2 linked regions of the Homo sapiens genome follow. The protein of the gene in region 2 purifies or fractionates together with the protein of the main gene of each other region. This does not show direct contact. Each region holds a gene or a part of one and is shown on either strand. Other genes may lie near its edges. The genes, in order: RIPK4 and AGT.

What was found.
Region 1: the proteins of AGT (region 2) and RIPK4 purify together in Homo sapiens (affinity purification with mass spectrometry, with the first as the bait; 2 studies listed by BioGRID). This does not show direct contact.

The regions. Positions count from the first base shown.
Region 1 is NC_000021.9:41,760,511-41,764,321, forward strand, and holds part of RIPK4 (receptor-interacting serine/threonine-protein kinase 4), read right to left. Parts: intron 1-3,811.
Region 2 is NC_000001.11:230,703,812-230,707,622, forward strand, and holds part of AGT (angiotensinogen precursor), read right to left. Parts: intron 2,390-3,811; coding exon 2,122-2,389; intron 527-2,121; coding exon 382-526; intron 1-381. UniProt on the Homo sapiens protein: Essential component of the renin-angiotensin system (RAS), a potent regulator of blood pressure, body fluid and electrolyte homeostasis.

The sequences.
Region 1 (3,811 bases), on a different chromosome or scaffold from region 2:
CTGCGCAGAGTCCAGGGGCACCCGGGAGGCCAGCAGAGCGGAGCAGTCGCTGTGGATCCCCTTGGGCTTGGCAAAGCAGAGAGGGGAAGCCAGCAGAGCACACACACTCTGTTGGAAGAATCTGCAGGATGGGTCCATTGACTGCATGTGGAGGGGAGAAGCTTGCAGGACCTCTCTGGAGCTGCACCAGGGGTCACTAGGCAGCTCTCTACGGTGGACGCGGGAGCACCCCAGGAGGAGCAGCTGGGGGGTGTGGGGGGTGGGCAGGTCGAGTGTGTCTGAATACACTCAAGGAGCAAAGAATCCCACTGGCCTTGGGAACAAGTGAAGCAAGTATCAGGAATGAACGTGAAATTATTATGAGACAAAACTTAGGGGAGCACGGCCTGCTTTCCTAGCGCTCTGGTTAAATGACCAACTAATGGAAAACAAGATGCCCACCAGTGTGCAGTGCTAGCCTGTGGGGGTCCCTGGGCTGAGCTGAAAGCTGCCCCATCACCAGCATACCATCGGCTGCTTCCTCCCTCTCCAGGGGAAATCCCTCTCCCTGCAGCCACAGGCTTGGGCCAGGCTCTGGGACCCATCAAGGGATGGGGGGTGCAGATCAGATCGTGGGACTCTCAACCCTGTCCCCAGTCTCAGTGAGCATTGGGAAAAAAGGAAGACGAGGACCTGATGCCAACGTCAAGCATCAGCTAAAATGAAACCGGTCACCAAAGAAGGAAAATGACACCTCTCAGCTCCCAGCCTTTCTCCTCCTCTGGGAACACCGGTTGGCTGAGGCCCTCATTTGTTATTTAAAGGAATACCAGCACAACTTCCAACCCGGCAACTGCCACTAACTTCCAAACCATCGGACTGGGACATGGTACCAGCTGCTGCTTCTCTTTTATGTCTTGTTAAGAATCAGAGTTATGATTTGTCTGTTTCCGATTGCTCAAATGTGGCCAGCTTGCCGCCCCTCCCCTACCAGTGTGGCCTCCCTCCTCCGGACACTCTGCCCCGGGGCGCTGGCGAAAGTCCTTCCGTAGGACTCAGACCCACATCCACTGTGCAACCGTGTGAGGCACACCCTCCTCGCCGGAGGGTTTTGAGGAAATGACAATTCGGGTGTTTAGAGGCCAGCCATTCGCAAGGGTCATTTTTCCACATTAAGTAGACATTCTGAGAGTGAACTCTCTAAGCCAAAGCTGACTGATAATAAACACGTATTCTGAGAACAATGTCAATCAAAGGAAGGCTGAGTAGCTTATTAAGTGGAAGCTCTGAGCCACTCCACAAATAGTGTTTTCTTTTATTTGCCCAAAGGGCTTAATACATAAAACCCCGGTGACTTCTGATTGCAGAGTGAGCTCATTGGCGACTCTAACAGCTACGGGCTGGCAGCAGTGCACACCCCTCCCCAGCGCACCGAGTTCAGCAAGTACTTTACTCTCCCTGCCCCGGGCTCTTTCTGCAGAACGGAGACCCCATTTACCTTACTTTAAAAGAAACAACAAACAAACAAAAAAGGGCCACTGCTGCTAGTTGGCTCCTGAAAGCGGATCCCGGCTAGAATCTCCTAACGGAGTCCACCCCAGCTTTGCGCAACTGCCTGAAGGGAGCCCGGCACGACTTCCCCCTTCCATGGGCCACACATTTGAGGGCACTTTCTCGAGGAAAATCAGCTGTCCTGGAAAAAAAAAGTCATTGTTTCCGTGGACAAAAGTGTTGTGACAGCATGATCCAAACTGGCTTGGGGTAGACAGGATTCCAGCTGAGGAAGGGGGTCCCGGGACCGCCCTGTGGGAGATCTGAGGCCCAGGAGTGGGGGTGGGGCGGCTCCCTTGCCTACCAGCCTGGATTTCGCTCAGAAGCACCAGCATGTCCTCAGAAACTTTCCACACTGTTTACCATCCAGTAACCACTGGGCCAAAACCCACACGACCCCGCCTTCCAGCCCCTCTCCAGGTGCTCCCTAGGCGCACATCTGGGAAACTCCAGCGGCTTTAGGAAGCTCCAGCCCTTCTGGGGTCGGGTGTCGCCCGGCGGCATTTGCAATTCAATAAGCCTGAAAGGGCCTCTTTGCAACAAGCTGCAAGAAGAGGCTTTTCTGATCAGGGAGGTTAAGAAGTGCTCAGGTACTCGAAGCACAGAAAGAACCCACCAATTGCTTTTGAGCAATGGCACTATTTTTTTTAATACATTTTTTTCTCCTAAGCAGTGTTTCTGGCTTATTTTAATGATTCTGGCTTATTCTGATGACCACACAAAAGGAACTGTAGATTTATTACTATTATCATTTTAACACGTGGAGAGATGCCGAATCCAGCCTAGGTGCTGGGGTGGCGGCCAGGGAGCACAGAACATCACACAGTCACATTCGCACCGTCTCCAAATCGCATTTCTTACTGTTGACAGTGAAGTCAACGTTTCTGGGTTGACCAGAAGCCCCTCTCGTCGGTGTTAATTAAAACACAACCTAAAAACTGTGCCTTGCTCCAAGCGCAGCTACGCTTAGGCACAGTTCAGAGGGGGTGGCATCCTATTCCCCTCTCCTTCGCTGCTGGTGAAAGCGTTGCTAATTCTGCTTCCACGCAGGAACGGGAAAAGCCCCCCCTCCCCCGCAAAAGTGTCCTGGGTCCTGTTTTGGGTTCCACATGAAAAATCTCTGGGCATTAATTAGGATTAACTTGGGGTTCAACTTTTTAAAGATACGGTGAGTAGCACTTAGATGAATTCGGTTTTCTCCTCATTTAGGGCTAGCCAAAGTGTATTTCGCCCTCCCAGGGAGGCCAATGGAGTAGCGAGAAATACGAGAAATATCATCACACCAATCATCTCTAAAAGGAACTTCTAAAGAAGTCCCAAGGTTCTTCTCCAGGCTCAGAAATTCCAAAGACCTGTGGACCAGGCCAGCTGCGGTTTCCCCTGCAAGCACGCATCCTGGAAAGGGGGAAAGAACTGCCCCGGGACATGGTCTTGTGCAAGCGGAGAAGCAATAAACGAAGGGAAAAGTGAGAAGCAGGGAGGTGGGGGAGACGGTGAGACCGCTCAGGTAACAAAGAGCTCCGAAGGAGAAACCTAGCAACTACCTTCAGGAAAATGCAGCCGGAAAATGTGTTTCATCATCTGTTAGCTGATGCCTCTCAGCGAGGCCTTCTGCACACCAATCCAATTATGTTCCCAGGGAGCCTCGGAGGGGTTCCCACACGGCTATTTTTAAAACTGACAAGAAACGGGCTTGTCCAATCGTCAGCTCTGTTGTTACAAACCTGGGGTTTGCTCAGGCTCGCCCCGACCAGCCAGGGCTGAATGTGGCAGGAGCGTCTCCCAGCCGGCGCCCCGCAGGCACTGGCTTCTTCTGAGCATCCCCTTAGCTGGGGGCTGGTAGGGGAGGAACGGGGCCTTTGGGATCACTTTATTCTCTCCAAACTGGTCACAGCACCCATCCCTACACCCCACCCTAGGCCCTGTGACCCCCACAATGAGGGTCAGCCAGGGAGGCCAGCTGCCTCTCCAAAGCCACCCCACAGGACCCTCCGAGGCACCGAGCCCCATGATGAAGGTAATCTCAGATCAATGGGGTGTCACCTGTGAACTCCCAGGAGGGCCCCCTGGCAGGCACTTCCTGTCCCTGGGAGCCTCGCTAAGTGTCTGGGGGCTGGGCGGCCCCCCAACCTTTCCTGCACAGAAAAGCAAGCTCACATGGCCTGGCGCAGCCTGCTCATCAAACAAGCCCCGAGCAGGTGCTGTGGCCAAGGGCCGGCTGAAGGCCTGGCCCAGGGGAGCTGCAGGGAGCCAGGAGACCCCAGACCACCTTGAGAGGCAA
Region 2 (3,811 bases):
ATTCTGTCTGCTGCTCAGCATTTCCCTGAAGAAGGGGCTGGGCCCAGGGCACCAGGTCCAGGGGTGCTTGCTGTCTTCATCCCGGTTTCAACTCCACTATAGGAACCCTGGAGGACCCTGAGGCAAGGCAAGGCCAAGCAGGACCATGGAACACACACCTAGCAGGAGGAGGCACAGCAGGGATGGGGAGGGATTTGCTGCTCTGCACCTGGAAGGCCCCAGAATGCTCTGGCTACTTCTCTCCCACCTTTGGCCCTACTCTCCGCTCCCTCTTGCCCTGCTGGCCCCACCCATAGCCTCCTCTGTGTCCCTTACATCCATGCCTCCCACCCTGTGCACACTTGGAACCCAGGTCAGGCACAGACACAGGCTCACACATACCTCCCCCACCCTGATGCGGTCATTGCTCAATTTTTGCAGGTTCAGCTCGGTGTGCAGAATGGCGGGCAGCTCAGCCTGGGCGAGCAGGTCCTGCAGGTCATAAGATCCTTGCAGCACCAGTTGGGGCATGGTCAGGTGGATGGTCCTGGGGAGATGATGCACAGTTAGGAAGGCTCCAGGCCACACAGTGAGGGCTCTCCCAGAGGCCAGGCAGGCTTATGCTCCTTGCACCCAACCCTGACGACAGGGATGTTTGCTCCCCCCATCACCCAACTAAGTCATCCTCCCCCTTGGGGAAAATTTCAGCAAAACCTACAATAAAAATCCTTCATGTCATTTGCAATACTATGTGAGGGACATAGAAGATTTACCGATGAGGACCTAGGAATGGTTGTCCTTTGGTGCATTCTGTTTTTAGGTTGGCTGCATTGAAGGTGTGTTACTTGGGTAATTTTTAAATGCTATTCTCTGAAATAATGCACTGTGTCTTACTACTGCCACAGCAGTGTTCTTGATGACATGACACCCATGAAAAGGAGAGAGGCAGGAGGGTACAGTGTCAACCTCGTGCTGGACACGTTGCTATGTCAACTCGATTGATCTTCGTATAGAGCCTCTTCCATCTTTTGGCATCCTTCAGAGCCCATGGACATTTCCAGTGATGTATCAAGCACTTATAAGAGCTGACAGTACACCCATGTTTACAGGGTACACTGCACTATTCACAGCAGCTCAAAGGTGGAAGCAACCCACGTGTCCATCGATGGATGAGTGGATACACAAAAGGTGGTAACCACATGCAATGGAATATTATTCAGCCTTCAAAAGGAAGGACATTCTGACATGTGCTACAACATGGGTGAACCTCGAGGACATCGTGGTGGTTGCCGGGGCCAAGGGGAAGGGGAAATGGAGAGTTAGTGTTTCAGCAGGACAGAGCTTCAGTTTGGGAAGTTGAGAAGATAAATGGAGATGGACGGGGGTGATGGCTGCACAACAGTGTGAATGGGCCTAGTACCACTGAACTGTGCACTCGAAAATGGTTACGATGGCAAATTTTGTTACGTATATTTTACCATCACAATTTTTAAAACATAAAAAACACCCAGAGTTGATGTCAAGCCATCGTGTCACTCAATGCCTGCCTCTGGGAGCAGATTTCCAGGCCTCGATGATCTGGGGTGATGTGTAGTTTGAGTCCAGGGCTCTGTGGAAAGGAATTGCAGCAGGAAAGAGGAGCTAACAACACCTATCCCCACCCAGCCGCCAGCCGCCAGCAAGGGCGTTCTGGAGTCAAGGGACGCTCCCTGAGAAGGCCCCACCCCCGCTCACGCGAAGTCCGAACCCTCCTGGCAAGTCAGTTCCAAGAAGCTCTTGGATGTCACAGGTGTGCTGTGTGTCAGGTGTGGGACCAAAATGGTCCTCTCTCAGAGGGCGGATTGCAATGTTTTCTCCCCCTCCAAAACTACCAGGCAAGTGTAAGTGTAGAAAAAGCATTCTTCCTCTCCTCCTTTACCTTGCCTGCACTTGAAAGACAGACACTAACTGGAGAGCTGGGTGCTGGCTGGATAGAGGACTGGTAGACAGACACACAGGCCGCCTGCCCAGCCCCGTGCCACCGCGGCCCTGCCCTGCTCTGCACCCAAGGCTCAGCTCAGGTGTGTCTACTCCCCACCCCGCCCCCAGCCTGGGCAGGACAGTGTGGCTCCCACATTCCAGGGGAGACCGGGAGGCTCCTACCGGGGAGATAGTTTCTTCATCCAGTTGAGGGAGTTTTGCTGGAAAGTGAGACCCTCCACCTTGTCCAGGTCAGAGGCATAGTGAGGCTGGATCAGCAGCAGGCAGGCGCTCTCAGTGAAGGGCACTTGAGTCACCGAGAAGTTGTCCTGGATGTCACTCCAGTGCTGGAAGGTGCCCATGCCAGAGAGCATGGGAACAGACACTGAGGTGCTGTTGTCCACCCAGAACTCCTGGGGCTCGGCCAGCAGGGAGAAGCCCTTCATCTTCCCTGAAATCCAGACAGGAGACAGGGAGGGAAGAGTCACCCAAGACAGGGGCAGGAATGAGGGCTGGCAGACACCAAAGGCCCAGATCCTGCCCCTCGCCCTGCCTCAGCCTCCTTCCTTGGCCCCCCCCAGGCCACTCTGCATTCTCCTGGCCACAGGACCGCAAGTGTGGCTCAAATATTTCTCCTGTAAAATGCAGCCATTTGAGTTCACTGAGGCAGCCCTAACCGCCACCTGCAAGACACACAACATGCCAGGCACCAAACCGGGGGTTTTGCATCTGTCACCTTAAGGGACATAAGCCACTGGTACCTGCCAGGTCAACTCAAACCTAGAACTGTCCTGACCCAAAGGCTGTGGTTTGACACACTCACTTTTTAAAAAATTTAAGAGATGTTATTTTTTAGAGTGACTTTAGGTTCACAGCAAAATCGAGCAGAAAGTACAGAAAGTTCCCATATAACTCTTGTCCCCCACTACACAGCCTCCCCCGTGATCAACATCTCACACCAGCGTGGCCCATTTGTTGCAACTGACGAACCTACACTGACACGTCCTCAGCACTCAAAGTTGATAGTTTTCTTTGAGTCTCCCTCCTGGTGTTTTACATTCTGTAGGTTTGGACGCACGTAGAATGACATGTGGCCACCACCGCACTATCCCACCACTCCTAGAGGCCCCTGCTCATACTCACTTTTTAATCCATGTCTAGCCCCAGCCATGGCAGAGCCCACCAGCTGTCCTGTGGCCCCCACCCTCCCCCATCACAGTCATAGAATACAGAGTGGGCCACGCAGGCCCCGGAAACGAGGGCTCCATTCCTCAGCAGCCCTTGCTACTGGGGAGACTCACACAACCTCGTTGTGATGAATGGATTTGCACACTGGGCCTTGGGGGCAGGGGTGAGCCCTCTGTTTCCCCTCCTGCTCACAGGGCCGTGCAGATGACAGAGAACTCGGGAGAGCCCGTTGTGGGAGAAGGACACAAATTTGTGTGTGACGCAGTTACCTGGGGTCTTTCCATGACAGCAGCCCACCCTCTGCCTCGACCTTACACTAGCACATCCCTGCCCTCGGCTGTCCTCCCACTCATCCTGAAAGGCCTATTCTGCGGTTGTTCTTAGGAGAATAGGGTGAAGTTGTGTATAAGTTTGTCACAGAACAGTCCCCTGGGCACGTGGCACTTGGGAGTCTGAGTAGAGATGGTTCAGAAACAGTGAGGTCTCCCTTTGTACTGAATTGGAGGTCCCAGCATGAAAGTAGGGCAGCTGGGAGGACAGAACTGGCAGGCAGGAGCTGGGCATGGCTGTGCCTCCCCTGGGTCCGGGTCTCGTAAGAAGGCAGTGGCAGACCTGGCATATTTCTCGTCCTCAGTCCTCGGAGCACTCAGTCTCGGAAGGGCATGTGAGCGGGAAACTGCAGGGT